Homo sapiens: one gene and its partners. The protein of the gene in region 2 purifies or fractionates together with the protein of the main gene of each other region. This does not show direct contact. Each region holds a gene or a part of one and is shown on either strand. Other genes may lie near its edges.

Region 1 (4,178 bases), on a different chromosome or scaffold from region 2:
GGCTAATGTTTGTATTTTTAATAGAGATGGGGTTTCACCATATTGGTCAGGCTGGTCTCGAACTCCTGACCTCAGGTGATCCACCCGCCTCGGCCTCCTAAAGTGCTGGGATTACAGGTGTGAGCCACCACACCTGGCCAGTAATTTCTTGACCTTAAGCCCACCCTCTCTGTCCTTATAGCATCCAAGGGTTGGGATTTGCTACTTAGTGCTATCAACTGACTTGCTACTCTTGGGAATAAGGACTCCCCAGAGTGGGAGATGTGTGCCTACCACCCGCTGTGATTTCTTTCCCAATGGTTTTCAGAATATATCTCTGTTTTAATGGAGGAAGAAATATAGCTATTGGGAAAAAGTGTGAGTGGGGTTAAAAGAGCTTTAAAAATTGATAAATGAAAACACCTCTCTGGTGGCATATTAGAAACTTCTTGGGTTCGAATGCTTTGTATTGGGGTCATTTTCACAATGTGTTTCCCCCCTCATCGCCGAGACATCTTGCTCTGTCACCCAGGCTGGAGTGCGGTGGCGCGATCTTGGCTCACTGCATCCTCTGTCTCCTGGGTTCAAGCAATTCTCCTGCCTCAGCCACCCGAGTAGCTGGGATTACAGGCGCATGCCACCATGCCCACCTAATTTTTTTGTATTTTAGTAGAAATGGGGTTTCACCATGTTGGCTAGGCTGGTCTTGAATTGGCTGGTCTCAAACTCCTGACCTCATGATCTGCCTGCCTTGGCCTCCCAAAGTGCTGGGATTACAGGCGTGACACAATGTTTTTTTAAGAGGACAAGGGCATGAATTATTAGAGTCTTTTGGGACCAACATATTTCAAATGATGTGTTCTAAGGGGTGTTTATACAGTGAGTAATTATCTTAGGTCCTTCTTCACAAGTAGCAAAAGGAAATTGTTCACATTTAAAAGAAGGAAGCAATCTATCAAATCTTATTGTACTTTTTAATGGAAAATGTTCATATTTATGGTGTTAAGATAATAGTCTTATGTTGGCATAGCATTTTTCTTTTTACAAAGCTTCCTTCTTCCCTCCCCTCCCCTCCCCTCCCCTCTTCTTCCCTTCCCTTCCCTCCTTCTTTCCTTCCTTCTCTTTATTAAATTGAGATGGAGTCTCACTCTGTCACCCATGCTGGAGTGCAGTGGCACAATCTTGGCTCACTGCAACCTCCACCTCCCAGGTTCAAGTAATTCTCCTGCCTCAGTCTCCCGAGTAGGTGGGACTGCAGGTGTGCAGCACCATGCCTGGCTAATTTTTGTATGTTTAGGAGAGATGAGGTTTCACCGTATTGCTCAGGCTGTTCTCAAACTCCTGACCTGAGGTGACCTGCCTGCCTCGGCCTCCCGAAGTGCTGGGATTACAGTCGTGAGCCACTGCGCCCGGCCTTACAAAGCACTTTCATGGGTGCTGCTCATTCAGTGGTGTGGTTTAGATGTCTTTTGTATTCACCTGTTACTTTCATTTTTTTTTTGTTTGAGACGGAGTTTTGCTCTTGTTTCCAGGCTGCAGTGCAATGGTGCGATCTCAGCTCACCACAACCTCTGCCTCCCGGGTTCAAGCGATTCTCCTGCCTCAGCCTCACTAGTAGCTGGGATTACAGGTGCCCGCCACCATGCCCGGCTAATTTTTTTGTATTTTTAGTAGAGGCAGGGTTTCTCCATGTTGGTCAGGCTGGTCTTGAACTCCCAATATCAGGTGATCCACCCACCTCGGCCTCCCAAAGTGTTGGGATTACAGGCGTGAGCCACCGCGCCTAGCTCACCTGTTGCTTTCTATTTCGTGAATACTAAAGTACCCTATTAAATGATGACTAGTTAATTTTATAAAGAAATCTTACTAAAGTGAAAACCAAACAAACTCTTTTTCCAGTAGGAGAGAAGTTTGCTGAGGAATGCCTTCAAGCACAAAGTGATGAATGACTGCCTTCAAGTCTCAAGAAAACACTTTTCCCTAACTTTTAGAGATATTTCAGCCCTTTCCTGTGGCCTGGTCCTATAGCCAAAATCACAGATATTCATGAGTTTCTACTTGAGTGAGAAAACTGGGTGAAGGAATAGAATTTTAAATAGTAATAACTGCTTGTTTTTTTTGTGCAAGTACTTTTATACATAAGATAAACAAAAACCTTACCACCAAACATACCAAAATGCACCTCTTTCATAAGTGAGTTACTAAGATTTCTATACCTGGAATATCATGTATGTTTCATTTACTGGATGTTTACATTTTAGGAAGGAAAATAGTTTTGTTTATTTAAACAACTGAATACTTATAAACTGTTGTTCCTGGAAGTTATTTATTCCATAAAAAATTTGTTCTTTTGTCATGAATTTATAATTCCTAAATGAAGACCAGAAAGTACAAATTGCTGGGAGGAAGAATAGGCTTTATTAATCAACTGATGTCTTGATTTTTCTAAATGGGAAGATTGCTTTATTTTTAACACTAATTATGGGAGCAGATTCTTAGCAAACTTCTTTGGAAAAGTTAATGTTATGATGTGCATTAGGCTGCCCCATCGTGTATATAAATGAAGCAGATTTGATTTTTGTATTCTTACGTTTCTCTGCTTTGTAGTTGTGGCTGTACTTAAAGAAATACAGAATTTCATATATTTAAAAATGTTTAAAATGTGACCCACAGAACATTGTAAATGATTAAAAACTAACATGAAAATATTACAACCTAAAAGAATTCTTAACTTCACAAGTGTTTTACTTCGACGATGTGCCTTTGATTTAATTTGGGACACTTTTTTAGAAGGATACATTATTCGTGTTTGCAACGGTCTTTGAAGAGCTTGGAAATAAAATTTCTGCTTAATTAATCATTTTTCTATGACAGCAATATTTTGTGTCTGATTTTGTATTAAGGACTCAAGGATTTCTGTTTGCCTGTGAGATTGAGTGCTGGAATGAGAGAGTGAAATTGTTGTTTTTAAGTCTTTGTAGAATTTTGCAAATGTCCTGAAAAATAGATAACTGTATAACATGAAGAAAATATCTCTATTAATGGCAACATTTGTTCTCTGAAATAGCTATATATAAACTCATAAATAAACAAAAATATCTGTGAGTGTAAGTAGTGTTACAATAGAGAAAATAGAAGTTATTAGATGGGAACTCCCTTAACTTTTAGCTACTAAACTTCTAGATCTAGTGATTGGAATCCCTTCCATTCAGTCATAATTCAGGCATCCCTTTTATAACCTATTTGTTCTCTGGATCTGTTTCACCTTCTCTGAAATTGCACACTACCAGTGATCCTTTCTCCTTCATCTTCAAGTTCTCTGCTGGATGCTTTATTTTCTCTTTTCTTCTCTTCTCTTTTCTTTTTTGAGACAGGGTCTCACTTTGTCACCCAGGCTGGAGTGCAGTGGCGCTATCTCGGCTCACTGCAGCCTCAATCTCCTAGGTTCAAGTGTTCTTCCCACCTCTGGCCCCCAAGTAGCTGGGACTACAGGCGTGAACCATCACACCCGACTAATTTTTGTATTTTTTGTAGAGATGGGATTTCGCCATGTCGCCAGGCTGGTCTTGAACTCCTGAGCTCAAGCCATCCACCCACCTCAGCCTCCCAAAGTTCTGGGATTATAGGCGTGAGCCACTGTGTCTGGCCTCCAGTGGACCCTTTCTATCACAATTTAGCATGTTCCATTCTGTCTTAACAACAACAGCATTTTTTAAAATCCTCATTGAAAAACAAAATTCTTTTTTGATTCCACTTTCCCCTTTCAGCAAACATTTGGTAAGATAGCACAATGAAACTATAAGCATCTCACTTATAGATGAATATAGATGCAAATGTCCTAGATATAAACAGATAAAATTCAGTAGTTAGAGAAAGTACAGCCGGATAAAACTACTTTAACATAACTAAATCTATCAATGTAATTCATTACTTGAATCACTTAAAGAAGGGAACCTATGCCAAAAAGTCATCTGATAAAATTCAATAGCTGTTCTGGGCTAGGTACAGTGGCTCACGCCTGTAATCCCAGCACTTTGGGAGGCCAAGGCAGGCAGATCATGAGGTCAAGAGATTAAGACCATCCTGGCCAACATGGTGAAACCCCGTTTCTATTAAAATTCAAAAATCACCTGGGCATGGTGGCACGCCCCTATAGTCCCAGCTACTCGGGAATCTGGGGCAGGAGAATCGCTTGAACC
Region 2 (4,332 bases):
TGTGGTTGGATTCCAAAGTGAGGGTCACAGGGGTGGACAGGGAAGAGAGAAATAATGGGGTAGAAGATAAATAATGGGGTGCTACAGTAGGGCAGTGGTGGGGCGATGGTGAGGTCCACAGTAGGAGCAATGCAGGGCACAGTGTTGGGGGCAGCTGTGGAGATAACAATGGGGCATGGTGAGGGCAGTGCTACCAACAGTCATGGGGGTCACAACAGAGCCACTGAAGCACTGATGGGGCACTGATGGAGTGATTGATGGGAATGGAGGAGAGGGCACTGATGGAGTGATTGATGGTAACGGTAGGGGGGCACTGATGGAGTGATTGATGGGGACGGTGGTGGGGGCACAGACGGAGTGATTTATGGGAATGGTGGGGGGCATTGATGGAGTGATTGATGGGAATGGTTGGGGGTCACTGATGGAGTCATTGATGGGAATGGTGGGGGGGCACTGATGGAGTGATTGATAGGAACGGTGGGGGGTCACTGATGGGGTGATTGATGGGAATGGTGGTGGGGGTCACTGATGGAGTGATTGTTGGGAATGGTGGGGGGCACTGATGCAGTGATCGATGGGAATGGTGATGGGAGCACTGATGGGGTGACTGATGGGAATAGTGGGGGGCACTGATGGAGTGATTGATGAGAACAGTGGTCGGAGCACTGATGGAGTGATTGATGGGAATGGTGATGGGGGCACTGATGGAGTGATTGATGGGAATGGTGGGGGGGCACTGATGGAGTGATTGATGGGGACGGTGGTGGGGGTAGTGATGGAGAGAGTTGACGGACCCATAGTCAGGATGGCTGCTGGCTTTGTCACTGAGTAGTTGGGTTATGTACTCAAATTACTTCACCTCTCTGAGGCTTAGTTTCCTCATCGGCAATATTGAACAATAATAGTGCCTGCCCCACTGGGTTGCCGTGAGGACCCAATAAGGCAATGCTTATGGAGGGCCCTGCTCGGTGCTGGTACAGAGGACCTGATGAATCCCAGCACTGACCTTCCCATCCACCTGTTTAGATTCCAAATTTCAGAGGGACCTGGTGACCCTGAGAACAGATTTTAGCAACTTCACCTCAAACACTGTGGCGGAGATCCAGGCACTGACTTCCCAGGGTGAGTCTGGTTTGGATGGGGCTCTGGGCTGGGGCCAGGCCAGGGAGGAGGAAGTTGACCCCTAAGCCAAGTCTCCGTGTCCTCCAGGCAGCAGCTTGGAAGAAACGATAGCATCTCTGAAAGCTGAGGTGGAGGGTTTCAAGCAGGAACGGCAGGCAGGTGAGAGACCCTCCGAGTATGGGTGTGGGGGGCTAGGCGCTCAGACACAGTGGAGGTGGGAACAGACTCCTGGTGCTGAACTGCCCTCCCCTTCAGCCAGCAGCTTGAAAGGCAGCATGCAGGCCGGGCGCAGTGGTTCACGCCTGTAATCCCAGCAGTTTGGGAGGCCGAGGCGGGTGGATCACGAGGTCAGGAGTTCGAGAGCAGCCTGATCGACATGGTGAAACCCCGTCTCTACTAAAAAAAATACAAAAAATAGCTGGGTGTGGTGGTGGGCGCCTGTAATCTCAGCTACTAGGGAGGCTGAGGCAGGAGAATTGCTTGAACACGGGAGGCGGAGGTAGCCGTGAGCCGAGATCGCGCCATTGCACTCCAGCCTGGGCAGCAAGAGTGAAACTCCGTCTCAAAAAAAAAAAAAAAAAAAAGAAAGAAAGAAAGAAAGGCAGCATGCTTTCTCTGGAGAGCAGGCTGGAGAAACAGGGGCAGAGGAATCCAAAGCAGATTTGATGGCTGTACCTGGCCATGATGTAGGGGGTGGGTGGGGGCGGGAAGGAACATTCCCTGGCTTGGCCCTGTGCAGGGGTATCTGAGCTCCAGGAACACACTACGCAGAAGGCACACCTAGGCCACTGTCCCCACTGCCCATCTGTGTGTGTCCCAGTTCATTCTGAAATGCTCCTGCGAGTCCAGCAGCTGGTGCAAGACCTGAAGAAACTGACCTGCCAGGTGGCTACTCTCAACAACAATGGTGAGGAAGGTATGGGGAGTACCTGGCCCTACTTTTCTGCCCATGGCCCACTGGGCAGAGCCTCAGCCTCTCCACCCTATCCTATTTCTCCCCAATCAGCCTCCACTGAAGGGACCTGCTGCCCTGTCAACTGGGTGGAGCACCAAGACAGCTGCTACTGGTTCTCTCACTCTGGGATGTCCTGGGCCGAGGCTGAGAAGTACTGCCAGCTGAAGAACGCCCACCTGGTGGTCATCAACTCCAGGGAGGAGCAGGTGAGGGCTTCTGGTACTCAGTTCCTAAGACATGTCCCATTTAGGGAAATGGTTCTTAAGCTTGGCCGCACATTGGAATCATCTGGGAGCTTCCAGAATGACTGTCATCTGTGCCACACCCTCAGAGATTTAATAGGCCTGAGCATCCAGAGAAACATCTCCAAACTCCTCAGTTGATTTAACGAAGAGCTAAAGTTGAGAATCACTAGTTTAAGGAGTTGGCTGGGATGGGAAGAAGTCACCACTGCCCTTCTGTCACCGCAGAATTTTGTCCAGAAATATCTAGGCTCCGCATACACCTGGATGGGCCTCAGTGACCCTGAAGGAGCCTGGAAGTGGGTGGATGGAACAGACTATGCGACCGGCTTCCAGTGAGTGCACCCTGGCTTTCTGTGCCAATGTCCTCCGTCAGCGTTTCCCCCAGGGATCTGACTGGCAGCCTCTCCTCCCCTGAACTGAATTCTACTCCATCTACCCTTCCTAGCTTGCTGTTGTCTTTTCCTCTCAGGAACTGGAAGCCAGGCCAGCCAGACGACTGGCAGGGGCACGGGCTGGGTGGAGGCGAGGACTGTGCTCACTTCCATCCAGACGGCAGGTGGAATGACGACGTCTGCCAGAGGCCCTACCACTGGGTCTGCGAGGCTGGCCTGGGTCAGACCAGCCAGGAGAGTCACTGAGCTGCCTTTGGTGGGACCACCCGGCCACAGAAATGGCGGTGGGAGGAGGACTCTTCTCACGACCTCCTCGCAAGACCGCTCTGGGAGAGAAATAAGCACTGGGAGATTGGAAGCACTGCTAACATTTTGAATTTTTTTCTCTTTAATTTTAAAAAGATGGTATAGTGTTCTTAAGCTTTTATTTTTTTTCCAACTTTTGAAAGTCAACTTCATGAAGGTATAATTTTTACATAATAAAAATGCACTCATTTAAAGAGTAGAGATGACTTTGACAAATATGCATGCCTAGGTGACTACCACTCCGATCGCAATAGATAACATTGCCATCGCCCCCACCAGTCCCCTCATGCCTCTGGGCAGTCCAACCACTTCCCTGTTTCCAGGCCAGTGATCTACTTCTTTTTCACTATTTATTGGCCTTGCCTCTTCTAGAGCTTCTAGAACTTCATATAAGTGAAATCATACACTCTCGTGTATATACTTCATATAAGTGAATATATACTCTCGTGAGAACTTACGTACTTTGTGTTGCTTGATTTTTGGCAATCTAAAAATGGCAGAGTGGAGAAGCCAGGTGAAGCCTTCGAAAGTCCTATGTGATTGAGAAAATAGCATTTTCTTCTCATATAGATTTGAGTTCAAATCTTTTCTGTCACTTAAAGATGGTATAAACTTAGGGTGATTAGGAAAAGCCATTGTTTAATTTCTCTGAAGATCCCAGAGTTGTTGGGAGATGTAGATAAGATCCCCAGGTGTATTGGTTAGCAATTGGTGTGTAACAAACCACCTCAAAGCTCAGGGCTTATACAGTAAGCATTTATTATAGCTCATGAGGCTATAGGTCTGGTCTGGCCAGGTTTGGGTCATCTTGGCTGGGCTTGTTTATGCGTCCGTGGTCAGCTGGTGGGTTGGCTTGGGGTTGGCTGGTCTAGGGTAGCCTTGCTCCCATGTCTCATATTTGGCTGGCTCTGGGCTGGGACAATGGGGATGACTGGGCCACATTAGCTTAGCCTGGCCTTGTTCACAGAATGGCTGGGTGGGGGTCCAAGAGAGAAATTGGAAGACTGCAAGGACTTCAGAGCCTTGCTTGGAACTGAAGCATCGTTTTTGCTGCATCCTATTGGCCAAAGCAGATTGCAAGGCTGCCCAGGTTCAAGGGCCAGAGAAATAGATTCCACATTTTGGTGGGGGGTTGGGGGGGGGTCTACAAAGTCATACTGTGTAGAGAATGGATATAGAGAGGGGTGGAGATTTCTGTTTTTTCAATCAATCCAGCATATACCAGGGAAGCATCTCAGCTATTTTGATTTTTTTTTTTTTTTTTTTTTTTGAGACGGGAATTTCCTTCTTGTTGCCCAGGCTGGAGTGCAAT
Region 3 (3,769 bases), on a different chromosome or scaffold from region 2:
TGGGTTGGTTCCAAGTCTTTGCTATTGTGAATAGTGCTGCAATAAACATACGTGTGCATGTGTCTTTATAGCAGCATGATTTATAGTCCTTTGAGTATATACCCAGTAATGGGATGGCTGGGTCAAATGGTATTTCTAGTTCTAGATTCCTGAGGAATCGCCACACTGACTTCCACAATGGTTGAACTAGTTTACAGTCCCACCAACAGTGTAAAAGTGTTCCTATTTCTCCACATCCTCTCCAGCACCTGTTGTTTCCTGACTTTTTAATGATCGCCATTCTAACTGGTGTGAGATGGTATCTCATTGTGGTTTTGATTTGCATTTCTCTGATGGTCAGTGATGGTGAGCATTTTTTCATGTGTTTTTTGGCTGCATAAATGTCTTCTTTTGAGAAGTGTCTGTTCATGTCCTTTGCCCACTTTTTGATGGGGTTGTTTGTTTTTTTCTTGTAAATTTGTTTGAGTTCATTGTAGATTCTGGATATTAGCCCTTTGTCAGATGAGTAGGTTGCGAAAATTTTCTGCCATTTTGTAAGTTGCCTGTTCACTCTGATGGTAGTTTCTTTTGCTGTGCAGAAGCTCTTGAGTTGAATTAGATCCCATTTGTCAATTTTGTCTTTTGTTGCCATTGCTTTTGGTGTTTTAGACATGAAGTCCTTGCCCATGCCTATGTCCTGAATGGTAATGCCTAGGTTTTCTTCTAGGGTTTTTATGGTTTTAGGTCTGACATGTAAGTCTTTAATCCATCTTGAAATAATTTTTGTATAAGGTGTAAGGAAGGGATCCAGTTTCAGCTTTCTACATATGGCTAGCCAGTTTTCCCAGCACCATTTATTCAATAGGGAATCCTTTCCCCATTGCTTGTTTTTCTCAGGTTTGTCAAAGATCAGATAGCTGTAGACATGCGGCGTTATTTCTGAGGGCTCTTTTGTGTTCCATTGATCTATATCTCTGTTTTGGTACCAGTACCATGCTGTTTTGGTTATTGTAGCCTTGTAGTATAGTTTGAAGTCAGGTAGCATGATGCCTCCAGCTTTGTTCTTTTGGCTTAGGATTGACTTGGCGATGCGGGCTCTTTTTTGGTTCCATATGAACTTTAAAGTAGTTTTTTCCAATTCTGTGAAGAAAGTCATTGGTAGCTTGATGGGGATGGCATTGAATCTATAAATTACCTTGGGCAGTATGGCCATTTTCACGATATTGATTCTTCCTATCCATGAGCATGGAATGTTCTTCCATTTGTTTGTATCCTCTTTTATTTCATTGAGCAGTGGTTTGTAGTTCTCCTTGAAGAGGTCCTTCACGTCCCTTGTAAGTTGGATTCCTAGGTATTTTGTTCTCTTTGAAGCAATTGTGAATGGGAGTTCACTCATGATTTGGCTCTCTGTTTGTCTGTTATTGGTGTATAAGAATGCTTGTGATTTTTGTACATTGATTTTGTATCCTGAGACTTTGCTGAAGTTGCTTATCAGCTTAAGGAGATTTTGGGCTGAGACAATGGGGTTTTCTAGATATACAATCATGTCATCTGCAAACAGGGACAATTTGACTTCCTCTTTTCCTAATTGAATACTTTTTACTTCCTTCTCCTGCCTAATTGCCCTGGCCAGAACTTCCAACACTATGTTGAATAGGAGTGGTGAGAGAGGGCATCCCTGTCTTGTGCCAGTTTTCAAAGGGAATGCTTCCAGTTTTTGCCCATTCAGTATGATATTGGCTGTGGGTTTGTCATAGATAGCTCTTATTATTTTGAGATACGTCCCATCAATACCTGATTTATTGAGAGTTTTTAGCATGAAGCGTTGTTGAATTTTGTCAAAGGCCTTTTCTGCATCTATTGAGATAATCATGTGGTTTTTGTCTTTGGTTCTGTTTATATGCTGGATTACATTGATTGATTTGCGTATATTGAACCAGCCTTGCATCCCAGGGATGAAGCCCACTTGAACATGGTGGATAAGCTTTTTGATGTGCTGCTGGATTTGGTTCGCCAGTATTTTATTGAGGATTTTTATTTTTAATTTTTTGTTTTGTTTTTTGAGGCGAAGTCTCGCTCCGTTGCCAGGCTGGAGGGCAGTGGCACGATCTCGACTCACTGCAACCTCCGCCTCCCAGGTTTAAGCAATTCTCCTGTCTCAGCAGGAGTGGTTGGGATTACAGGCACATGCTGGCATGCCTGTATTTTTGTATTTTTAGTAGAGACGGGGTTTCACCATGTTGGCCAGGATGGTCTCAATCGCTTGACCTCATGATCCGCCCGCCTCGGCCTCCCAAAGTGCTGGGATTACAGGCGTGAGCCACTGCACCCGGCCTACATTTTAATTTTTACAAAAAACTCTTAAACTTTTTTGTGAGCAGAAATTCTCAAGTATCGAAGCGTGGTGTTTTAGGCTCCAGAAGAAATCCACTATTACAGTGTCCTAGTAGCCCAGACATATGTGTTAAATGACATGTATATACTTTGTTATTCTTTCTAATAAATAATACTCTTTTACAACTCTGCCTTCTGAGTGTCTCTTCCAACTCCCTATCACATGTTCTACTTACCAGTTAATGGCTGCCACATCCAGTTTGGAATGACCAAAGCAACAACAAACATCTGAGGGTGAACAGAGGTTATCTTTTTTCCTTATCCCTATTGCTGGAACAGAATGCCAAGACATGACATGTATGGCTTCCCAGGAAAGGAGAAGTGGGAAAACCAAGATCAAGACCAACCTCTGCCTCCAAGCTGTATTTTTCTTCTTTCTGTTGGCTTGACTATTGTGTAAGTTAGAATTATCGAATAAACTCTGCAGAAGCCTGCTAGCGATCCAAAACATATTTATGTTTATTAAATTTGAGTTATCTTTTCAGCAATTAAAGTTTATCATTTAATCTTTAATTGACTTAGTTGGAAATTTCTTTGCCAGTTTTCCAAAACACCATAGAATACAGTAACTTGTATCATAAAACCATGGACCTTTTTTGCTATTGGTTTCCCCCAGTATTATAAGAGGCTAGTTTATAGTCTATTTTTAATGTGAGGTGTTTAACGTAAGAAAATTTTATATACAATGTACTTATTAATACCACAGTTAAGACAAACACTTTAAAAGATTTTTCTGGGAGTAGCAGGATATGTAATGACATTATCCATATTTGAAAATATGTACCATCTACTGAATGCCCTTCTCTGGTCTGTCATGATTGTTTCTGTTAATGTTTTCCTCATTTTTTAGGTATAAAATTCTAAAAATAGTCATGATTAGTTTTTCCATGAGGCCACAGCACCAGGTAGCCACAGCAGGCTACTTCTGAAGGACCCTAAGTCATAATTTTTTAATATATTTTCTGTTTTAAAGGGCACAAGAGTTATGTATGTAAACAGAACATATAAATAAAGGTTAAGAAGAAACAGGTACAAAAGGAAAACACCCTCCCTGGGTATTACTTTGGAGAGATGAACCTAAATAAATTCATCTTTCACAAAACTCTAATGATGATTTTTCATATGAGGTGAAGCATTTGTTTAATAGACCAGTGGTTTTTAAAGATTTTTAAATTTAGTTTACATAAAATCTTACACAAATATCACATATAGGATACCTAAATATCATTTATATGATAAAAGAGCTGCTATGATTGATTTTACTGTAGGTCAAAGTTCCCTGGGAAGCAGACTTGGAAGAAATTAGCATGCAGAAAGTATACTAGAGAGTGCTCTGGGATTGGCACCTGTAAGGGAAGTAAAAGATGCAAGACTGGACAGAGGGGGTTAAGCAATA
Region 4 (4,617 bases), on a different chromosome or scaffold from region 2:
TTTTTTATATTTTGCAAGATAACCCGCATTCAACTTTATATGCAAACCTGAAATGGTATTCAGAGGAAAAGAAGGAAAAAAAGGCAGCCAGTAGATCTTTCACTTTGGGAATTGAATATAAGATCATATTCAAAGTGCAGCATTTACGGTCCAATGCTGAATACATAAAATATATGACCATTACAAATTCACCTTTCATTGCAAAGCTGTGCTCTTGTAGTGACATATCTTATTGCTAGATTAGAGCTTTTAGCATGATGAAGGTATCTTTCATTTTCTCCTAGATGCAGGCTGGGTGCTCTTTCTGGACTGAGTTTCTGCGTGTCACAATGCCCCACACCCTGGAGAGAGAGCTTACGGAGAACTCGAGCCATTCACCACAGGGTTGAAGCAACTTCCAAGGGGAAGTGTCTAATTAGAGGTATGTCATCTGCGTGGGATCACACTGCCTGAGTTTGCCACACTTTGCTGAAGCCAAAGGGAGAGATCGGCTGGTGTTGTCTTCTGGAATAAGCCCAGAAAAGGTCAATCTAATATCGCAAATATTCAGCCCATACAAGTTTTGGTAATACCAAAAAAACAGCTTCATGTAGGACTTGGTGCATATTAGTTACTAGGAAAAGAATATACATATCATATAAATCAGTGATATGGTTAAAACATAAATGTACTTAAACCAGGAAATTTATGGAAAAGCTTACCAGATTCTTCTAACTCAAGCCTAAACTCAGTGTATGGATCAGGACAGGTTTTCATGGACTTTGTAAGTCATAAATCAGTGCTGCTGCTGCTGCTGCTTTAATTCTTAAAACTTGTAATCCAACTCTTACATTGCCCTTATGGACTTATGTCCTTGCCCTTCACAGTCAGCCCTAAGCTATCTTTCCAGAGTCATCTCCTGACTTTTCCATCCCTCTCCTCCCTCTTCCCTAGTTCTTCATGCACCCAATATTACTGACACATGCCTTGCTCGTTTCAATTCCCCAGTGACGAGCCCAGTGGGAGGCACACAGAAGACATTCCACAAATCTTTGTTGAATGAATATGAATAAATGACAAAAGGAGGACAGCACTTGACTTTTTGACAGCTATGTCAGATGTACAGGAGCACTTTTTCACTTACTTCCCACTCTTAGATGTGTTCCGGGTCTTTGTGGATGACGGAGAGTTGGCGCCTGCGTTAGTGTTTGGAGAACCCCGTTTATCCTTACTATACCCACAGAAAGAATAGAAAACATATACACAACAAGGACCACAGAGACAAAAAGCAATTAGTCACTTCATTTAAAGACTCTCAAGGCCAGCCTGCATATCCCCCCACCACCCCCTGGCCAATCTCTCTCTCTCTCTCTCTCTCCTGTCAAAGTATGATCTTATCCAGTTGTGCCCTTTAAAGGTAGAGAGTGGGAACCACTGGTCAAGTTCAAAGAAAGCTATCCTTTTGGCATTCAAAGCTTGAGCTCATGGATTCCATCAATGATAGCACCACAGCCCAGGCCCCAAGGGGGCCTCTAGTTTTAAAAAAAAAAGTATAAAAATAACTAGTCTTTAAAATAAAATCCTTTCTTTCCAGGCACTGAATTCTCTTCATTACATGTTCAGTTCTGAAGCTGCTGACTTTTGGTGAAGTATGTGGATGCCAAATGACTTCTAAAAGTCTTTGGGAGATACTATCAGATGAATTAATAATTTTCACTCATAATGTTACATGGGAAGTCCGTGAATTCAGATATTCTTTCAGGAGAATCACCACCTGCTTCATAGTAATTGAATTTAAATCTCCACCTTCAATAACTCCACAGCTTATGTCAAACCTTGGAAACAATTACGAAATAAATCACAAGGAAGGCCTGCTTAATCTCATCAGGTTAATAAACGCAGACGAATTAATCACCTAAAGGTAAACAAAAAGGAATAATTGATTGGAGTCTTCTTGATTACTTTATTCTATTTCCTTTATCAAACTATTTTACCATTATCTTCAGTTCAGCTGCTCTGCCTTGAAATTATTCCTTTACTTCATCTTCAGATTTCCATGGAAACCAATTCAAAGCCTTTCTCTCCACTTGAAGATGTGTGGAATTATTTATCCTGATTTCATCAGGAAGATTTTTTTTTTTTTGTTAGTAAGTTCTACGTCAGCATAACCTTTTATAAAAAGTGAAGGTAAGAAAGAAAAATATGTATCTTTGCTTTTAATGTGTATAATAGAACCTTCCAGTGGCAAAGAATATTGTCTCAGAAAATGTCAAACATCTTTTCAGATATTTATGAACCTTTTAAGTATCTCCAAAATAGATGTCTGCAAGTAGCTGTATTTATATGTGGGGTGGGCTGGGGGTCACAAAAGATATTCTGCCATGCACCCATCAGCTTCAAATGACTTCATGGATATGATTGGAACAAGAGATAATGATGGGTTCCTGGTGATTGCAAAGGTAATAAAGATGTGTGTGGGCATGGAAAAAGGCTGATCAGGAAAAGTCAGAGAGATAGCAACTGTCCAAGCACTTAAGAGTCAGTGTCTAGGCTGGGCGCGGTGGCTCATGCCTGTAATCCCAGCACTTTGGGAGGCCAAGTCAGGCGGATCACGAGGTCAGGAGTTCGAGACCAGCCTGGCCAACATAGCAAAACCCCATCTCTACTAAAAATACAAAAATAAAAAATAAAAAATTACCCAGGGCATGGTGGCGGGCGTCTGTAATCCCAGCTACTTGGGAGGCTGAGGCAGGAGAATAGCTTGAACCCGGGAGGTGGAGGTTGCAGTGAGCCAAAATTGTGCGATTGCACTCCAGCCCGGGCAACAGTGCGAGACTCCGTCTCAAGAATAAAACAAAACAAAAAACGTCTAGGGGGTATGAAAAGCAGCTCTTAGAAGTGGGAGATACCCATGTGAGCTCTGGCTCTGCTGCTGGAGTGGATGGCTCTGGAGAGAGTGGACACACATTCTATCCCAGAGGAGGGGGCAGAAATCCACTGGAATGAAGTGCTGGGATTCCTGCACAGTGCAGGGACCATTACCCCGTACCACTCACAGACTCACCAGAATGTGGCCACATTCTGAGTGGGGACTGAAGAATTCATTTGGTGCTGCCTCTATCCGTCCTCGATGACTTCCTGGCAAAGGATTCCTTAGGGACCTGAGACCAGGGACCATCCTGGCTATCCTCCTCACAAATTCAAAATTGTCTCTTCCAGAAGTTTGGCATAGCCTGATGCAAAGAATGCAATATGCTAATATGCTCTGTGTCACTCTTGCACCCTGGTCACTGGCCACTGAGCCTTCCTCCTCCTAGCCCCTCACTTAAGCAGTAGGCAGTGGGAAACTTGGCTGGAAGCATTCAGATACAAGGGATGTTTTTGATGTGTCTCATGCACACTACTGGGCTCAGAGTAGGTGGTCATTTAAGTCATCACTAAATCACTAAGTGCTGAGTCACTAAGTTCATTCATTCACTTTTTTTTTTTTTTTTTTTGATAAAGCAAAATCCCCCACTGCTAAATTCCCATGTCTGCGCCTTGGGCACTAGGGTCCTCTATAGTTTACATTATAATTGACCCTGTTTAAGCTCAATGCAGGACACAGTAGGACATCAGGGAAAGCTATCAGCTGGCAGCGGCAGCCTCATTATTGTCAACTGGTGCTCTAGCGGGAGGTGGTCCTGGAGCAGTAATCCTTTAAAAGATAGGAATAAGGGCCCCTCTAACCTACTGCCAAATCCCCCAAGTACAGATATTGGGGAAATGAAAACAAAAACATTCTCAGGAATAAATCACACAGGGAAGGCATTGCACCAAGAATAGGGGTAAAATTAATCAAGTAACTGGAAATGTTTGTTCTGTGCAAATAACAGATCCATTAACAGTGATGAAATGTATCTGAAAGGGGGATCAAGAAGAACTTGTGGCTGGCTTGGATCCTCGGAGCTTAATTTTGTAGATGTACTAATGACTGTGGTATAGAAAAGTTTACCTAACATTGACAGAAAAAGTCTTCATTCCTCCACCAAAATCCAGGTCAGTTAGATAAGCCTGGGCAAGATGCCATAATTCTGAAACTTTGAGAGAGAAGGAGATCTAAAGCAGTGATATCAAGGACACTGCAGTTTCTAGAAGGGTCCCATGAAAAATAAAGAGAAAATACTGCAGCTGCAGACTGTCTGGGAACTTCAAAGATCTTTGGGGCAAAGACCTAAAGATTAAGATCCTGCCAAGAACTCTGGTCACTGAAACATCCCGCAATCCCAGGGATTTACAAGAATAAATCCAACCTGTTTCAAAGACACATAGATATAATTTTGGATATATGAGATTGGTGGGGGGGGGTGGGTGCTCCTTGATTTAGAGTTCCTAACTTACATAACCGAAACAGATCTACCCCAGTAGTTATTCTTTTGATTTGCCCATCTCTAGACTACTTGTCAGCCCTCATCACTTTCATCTTGTCTTTGAATTGTAATCTCAAACCTTATGTCCTACAATTTCCAAGGCTATGGATCCAGGCTTCCTCTACCTCACCTGAGTAGCTATCCTTTTCTATGGATAAGCTGCTTTCCTCTCTCTAGTGCCTCACAACCAAGCCTCATTAAAGGCCTGTGAAAACAATTACAGGTGAGT
Region 5 (4,617 bases), on a different chromosome or scaffold from region 2:
GTGTAAGAGGAATCATGTCTTGCCCCAGGTCTCGAGCTAATCTGTGGCAGGTTTCGGGGCGGTGCCTGCTCCTCCGAGCCTGTCCTGGGAACTGGCCACACTGCCCTGGGTTCACAGCACCATGGGCTCTGTGCGTGCCGTTCACATACTCTTCTCCCTTGACAGCTTTGCACGTCAAGGAGAAGCTACCAGCCCACGCTTCTTGGCAAGACTCCTTTCCTCTTGGTTGTAAGGATGATACGGTCTGCTTCGGAGATGATAAAACTAGTATTGATGTTTATTTATTTGCTTTTACTTGGCAGATTCTCAGCGCTGATTTTGAGATGATGGGCTTGGGAAACGGGCGTCGCAGCATGAAGTCGCCGCCCCTCGTGCTGGCCGCCCTGGTGGCCTGCATCATCGTCTTGGGCTTCAACTACTGGATTGCGAGCTCCCGGAGCGTGGACCTCCAGGTGTTTTGTTTTCTTTATTGTTATGTTTATTTTATGTTTATGTTTTGTTTATTTTGTTATGATGGGGTCCCAGGGGTTTGTTGTTTATTGCCAGCCAGGGCGTTTTGTGCAGGGCACACGCTTGTAAGGTGAGTTTAGGGCTCTGCACACCCCCACAGCCCTGGGCCAGACCCCAAGCAGCTTTGGGTGGGAGAGGTCCCCTCTGTGGTTGTGTAGGATTGCGGTTGTGGTATCCCTCCCTGCCTTTCCTGTGAGTTAACAGCATTCATTTGAGCTACTGGGGTGGTTCTGGGAAGACAGCTTGCTTACATACACTGGCCATAGTCCGTTGTTTGCGGTCCTCCGGCGCCCAAGATATCGAAGAGTAGTATTGGAAGTGTGCTTGGATGATGGGTGTAAGAAATATGTTTTTAAAGGTACCAATCTTTATCTTCATTACTTAATGATAATAATAATTTTAACTTCCTCATTTACCGGTGCAGTCATGGGTCAGGTGCAGTGCTGAGCAGTGACAAAGATGCTCCTCTTGATTGAACTTGAGTCGGGCCCTTCTGAGCCGTCTTCTTGACTAGGCCTTGATCTTGGCACCTCCCAACTCTCACTGCCTGTCTTTGGCCTGCCCAGCCCAGTCCTAGCAAAGGATCCCGCTAAGCCATCCTTCTACCCCTGATCCTTGACCAAGTTCCTCATCCCTACCCTTGCTGTCTAAGTCCTTGGCCTGTGTTTAGCAAGAATCTTGTTAGGCCAGTTTAGCAAGAATCCCCCTACTCTGGGGGCGATTTCCATCCACTGACTCCCCGCACTGTGCTCGTTGGCTATAAATCCCTAGCTGTCTTTGATGTGTTCGGCATTGAGCACAATTTCCCTCTCCTATTGCAATCGTTTTGAATAGTCTTTCTTACCATTTTAATGAATGTCAGAATAATTTCTCTTTCACAGTACTTTATACAAATTATCTCCTTTTGTGCACAAACCCTACAAGGCTGGGACTTGACTTTCCTCATTTCACAGGGGGTCAGACTGAGGCACCAAGAGGTTGAGGTGGAGCAGGGATTCCAACCTGCATGGGCTTAGCCGTGGCACCCCAGCACGTCTGTGCTCTGTCCTGTTCTCACACTTACCCTCCTGGGCTTGTACTCCCTGTGTCTCAGCTTCCACGGGAGTTCCTGTTCTCTGGGCAGATGAGGTCTGCTTGTCTGGAGTTGGAGAACTGAATCTGTTTTCAGAAATTGTATCTGCTAAAGAGTTGTTAAGTGCTTTGTTAGCAGCGAAGAAGAACTAAATATTTGAGCATCATCTTATGCCAGGTAAAGCATGAGGCATTCTGTGCACTTAGCACATTTAAGCCTCACAAAAACCCAGTGGGAAGTGTGGTGTGAGTGCACAGAGCCTTCCTTCACTTACACTGACAGAGACCATTTTTTCCAGAAGAAACCGCTCCAGCTTCTGTCCAGTTGACTTAAAACACAGCCTTGGGCACTTGTGTGTATAAGACTGGTGCTGGCCCTGGGCCCCAAGGTGGTCTTTGTGGAGGGCGCTCAGGTGGTCCAGGCTCCTCAGGTAACTTGGCATCAGCCCTAATGCCACGGTCTCCTTGTAGACACGGATCATGGAGCTGGAAGGCAGGGTCCGCAGGGCGGCTGCAGAGAGAGGCGCCGTGGAGCTGAAGAAGAACGAGTTCCAGGGAGAGCTGGAGAAGCAGCGGGAGCAGCTTGACAAAATCCAGTCCAGCCACAACTTCCAGCTGGAGAGCGTCAACAAGCTGTACCAGGACGAAAAGGCAAGGCCTGCTTTGTTTCCTCTCAGTTCTTTTCTAAGGGATGGTGTCTACATTGTCTGTTTCTTCTTGGCGGGAGGATGAGCAAGCGGCTGGGTTTAGATTTATGTAATTATGTGGAAAGAGCCTATTGATCAAGCTTTGGGCATTCTCTCCCTTTCCCCTCCAAGTCCCTGGCTGGGCTTGCGGTGAAGCCTTTTGCAGTGGTAATAAACAGGAGAAATGCAGAAGAACAATTTCAGATTCATCCTCCTATTGGCTTTTTTTTTTCTCCTATTGGGTTTTTTCTTCCCACTTTCCACAAACATGTATTAAATACCTACTCTGTGCCAGGCCTATGCCAGGTGCTTATATCTCAGAGAAAAATAATATTTGTGCCCTCCAAGTATCTAATGGAGGAGAGGAGAGGCAGACTCTACTAAATACTAACAGAGAAAGTAGGGGACTGCACCCTTGCTTTTAAGCTAGGAAAAAAACCAACAAATCCTGCGTAGATTTAAAGGGGCCTTCCTGCTAATTAAAATATCTAAGCTTTATGTGTCTTTTTTTTTTTTTTTGAGATGGAGTTTGGCTCTGTCGCCCAGGCTGGAGTGCAATGGTGCAATCTTGGCTCACTCTGCCTCCCGGGTTCAAGCGATTCTCCTGCCTCAGCCTCCTGAGTAGCTGCGATTACAGGTGCCTGCCACCACGCCCAGCTAATTTTTATATTTTTAGTAGAGATGGGGTTTTCACCATTTTGGCCAGGATGGTTTCGATCTCTTGACCTCGTGATCCACCTGCCTCAGCCTCCCAGAGTGCTAGGATTACAGGCATGAGCCACCGTGCCCGGCCTGGTTTTCTTATGTAGGAATATATGACTATACTTTCTTTATTAAATTGTGTAACTGTGTGAGTTACTAATATCTCCTGTCCCAGAGTGCATCAAACTTTGGCCTCTATTATTAACTAGAAAAATTTGGCTTTTTTTTTTTTTTTTTTTTTTTTTTTTTTTTTGAGATGGGGTTTCCCTCTTGTTGTCCAGGCTGGAGTGCAATGGCGCCCTCTTGGCTCACTGCAACCTCTGCTTCCCGGGTTCAAGCAATTCTCCTGCCTCAGCCTCCCAAGTAGCTGGGACTACAGGCATGTGCCACCACGCCCAGCTAATTTTTTGTATTTTTTAGTAGTGATGGGATTTCGCCATGTTGGTCAGGTTGGTCTCGAACTCCTGACCTCAGGTGATGTACCCGTCTTGGCCTCCCAAAGTGCTGAGATTACAGGCATGAGCCACCGCACCTGGCCTGAAAAATTTGGCTTTTATAATGCGTGTACCTCTCTCTCTGGAGTGGCTAATTTATTGGAAGAATGTTGTAGCTCAACTTCCATTATCTTGAATTGTCTCAGAAAATGAATTATTTCCAGGAAGGGACTCAGACTTTTCTCGCATAACTGATTTAAAATTCAAGAAGTACTTTTTTTGTTGTTTAATTTGCAGAGTACTTTCCTATATTTGCAAGCTCATATTTCTTCTCTGGGAATTGTGCATAATGTTGTTGTAATAAAGTGCTTCTTTATGTTTCTTCCCTTTTCTTACTGGTGAGATATGCTTTTTGTGCTCCTGAAATCCCCTTTAACCTCATCTCTCAAAAAGAAAAAGAAAAAAAAGAGCATCAAGTAGTTATTTGAAAAGAGAATCTGTTTCCACAGTTTTTCTCTTTTAGAATATGCGATATAAATGTCTTTTCATTTTGGTGAGCAAGGGTGGGTTCTCACATCAAACCTTAGCTGCAGGAGGATTTTAGCTGTGGTTTGGTGGTAGGAGGCATGGAACTTGTGAGTCAGGCAGACCCGGGTTTAAAGTTCCCTCAGCTGTGTGATTTTAGGCAAGTCACTTAAATTCTCTGGATCTGTTTTCTCAACTGTCAAGTGGAAATGAGAAAGGAATCTCACAGGGTGCCTGTGAGGATTGAATGAGATAATATTTATAAAGCGTTTAACCCAGTGCTCAACCTAGAATGAAAGCTCAGCAGCTGGTGGTTGGTATTATTACACCTAATTGTACCAACGGCAGTCGAGGCCATGATCACAGCAGCAGTGGTGGGCGCAGTCGTAAGCCACCGCAGCAGCGGTGATAATGTTATCTCTTTCTGTATGGACTTTGTCTTAGTCTGTTTAAGGCTGCTATAACAAAATATCATAAACTGAGCAGCGTATAAACAACAAGTATTTATTCTCACAGGTCTGGAGGCTGGGAAGTCAGAGATCAAGACGGGGCAGATTCATCTGGTGAGGGCCCACTTCCAGGTTCATGGATGCCTTCTTCTTGCGGTGTCCTTGCCTGGTGGAAGGGGCAAGGCAGCTCTCTGGGGCCTCTTTTATGGCACTAATCCCATGTATGAGGGCTTGACTCTC

Evidence for each region.
Region 1: the proteins of CLEC10A (region 2) and GNG10 purify together in Homo sapiens (affinity purification with mass spectrometry; one large-scale study listed by BioGRID and IntAct). This does not show direct contact.
Region 3: the proteins of CLEC10A (region 2) and FAM241A purify together in Homo sapiens (affinity purification with mass spectrometry; 3 studies listed by BioGRID and IntAct, with this or other methods). This does not show direct contact.
Region 4: the proteins of CLEC10A (region 2) and HS6ST2 purify together in Homo sapiens (affinity purification with mass spectrometry; one large-scale study listed by BioGRID and IntAct). This does not show direct contact.
Region 5: the proteins of CLEC10A (region 2) and GOLM1 purify together in Homo sapiens (affinity purification with mass spectrometry; one large-scale study listed by BioGRID and IntAct). This does not show direct contact.

Annotation. Positions count from the first base shown.
Region 1 is NC_000009.12:111,667,391-111,671,568, forward strand, and holds the end of GNG10 (guanine nucleotide-binding protein G(I)/G(S)/G(O) subunit gamma-10), read left to right. Parts: intron 1-1,878; 3' UTR 1,879-2,836; downstream 2,837-4,178. UniProt on the Homo sapiens protein: Guanine nucleotide-binding proteins (G proteins) are involved as a modulator or transducer in various transmembrane signaling systems.
Region 2 is NC_000017.11:7,073,682-7,078,013, reverse strand, and holds the end of CLEC10A (C-type lectin domain family 10 member A), read left to right. Parts: coding exon 1-17; intron 18-1,026; coding exon 1,027-1,122; intron 1,123-1,209; coding exon 1,210-1,281; intron 1,282-1,861; coding exon of another isoform or gene 1,862-1,942; coding exon 1,943-2,029; coding exon of another isoform or gene 2,030-2,038; intron 2,039-2,128; coding exon 2,129-2,283; intron 2,284-2,547; coding exon 2,548-2,654; intron 2,655-2,791; coding exon 2,792-2,960; 3' UTR 2,961-3,477; downstream 3,478-4,332. UniProt on the Homo sapiens protein: C-type lectin receptor involved in recognition of N-acetylgalactosamine (GalNAc)-terminated glycans by myeloid antigen presenting cells (APCs).
Region 3 is NC_000004.12:112,192,758-112,196,526, forward strand, and holds the end of FAM241A (uncharacterized protein FAM241A), read left to right. Parts: 3' UTR 1-2,499; downstream 2,500-3,769.
Region 4 is NC_000023.11:132,667,990-132,672,606, forward strand, and holds part of HS6ST2 (heparan-sulfate 6-O-sulfotransferase 2), read right to left. Parts: intron 1,900-4,617; exon of another isoform or gene 1,574-1,899; intron 1,211-1,573; coding exon 1,124-1,210; intron 422-1,123; exon of another isoform or gene 285-421; intron 1-284. UniProt on the Homo sapiens protein: 6-O-sulfation enzyme which catalyzes the transfer of sulfate from 3'-phosphoadenosine 5'-phosphosulfate (PAPS) to position 6 of the N-sulfoglucosamine residue (GlcNS) of heparan sulfate.
Region 5 is NC_000009.12:86,075,027-86,079,643, reverse strand, and holds part of GOLM1 (Golgi membrane protein 1), read left to right. Parts: intron 1-302; 5' UTR 303-323; coding exon 324-452; intron 453-2,052; coding exon 2,053-2,232; intron 2,233-4,617.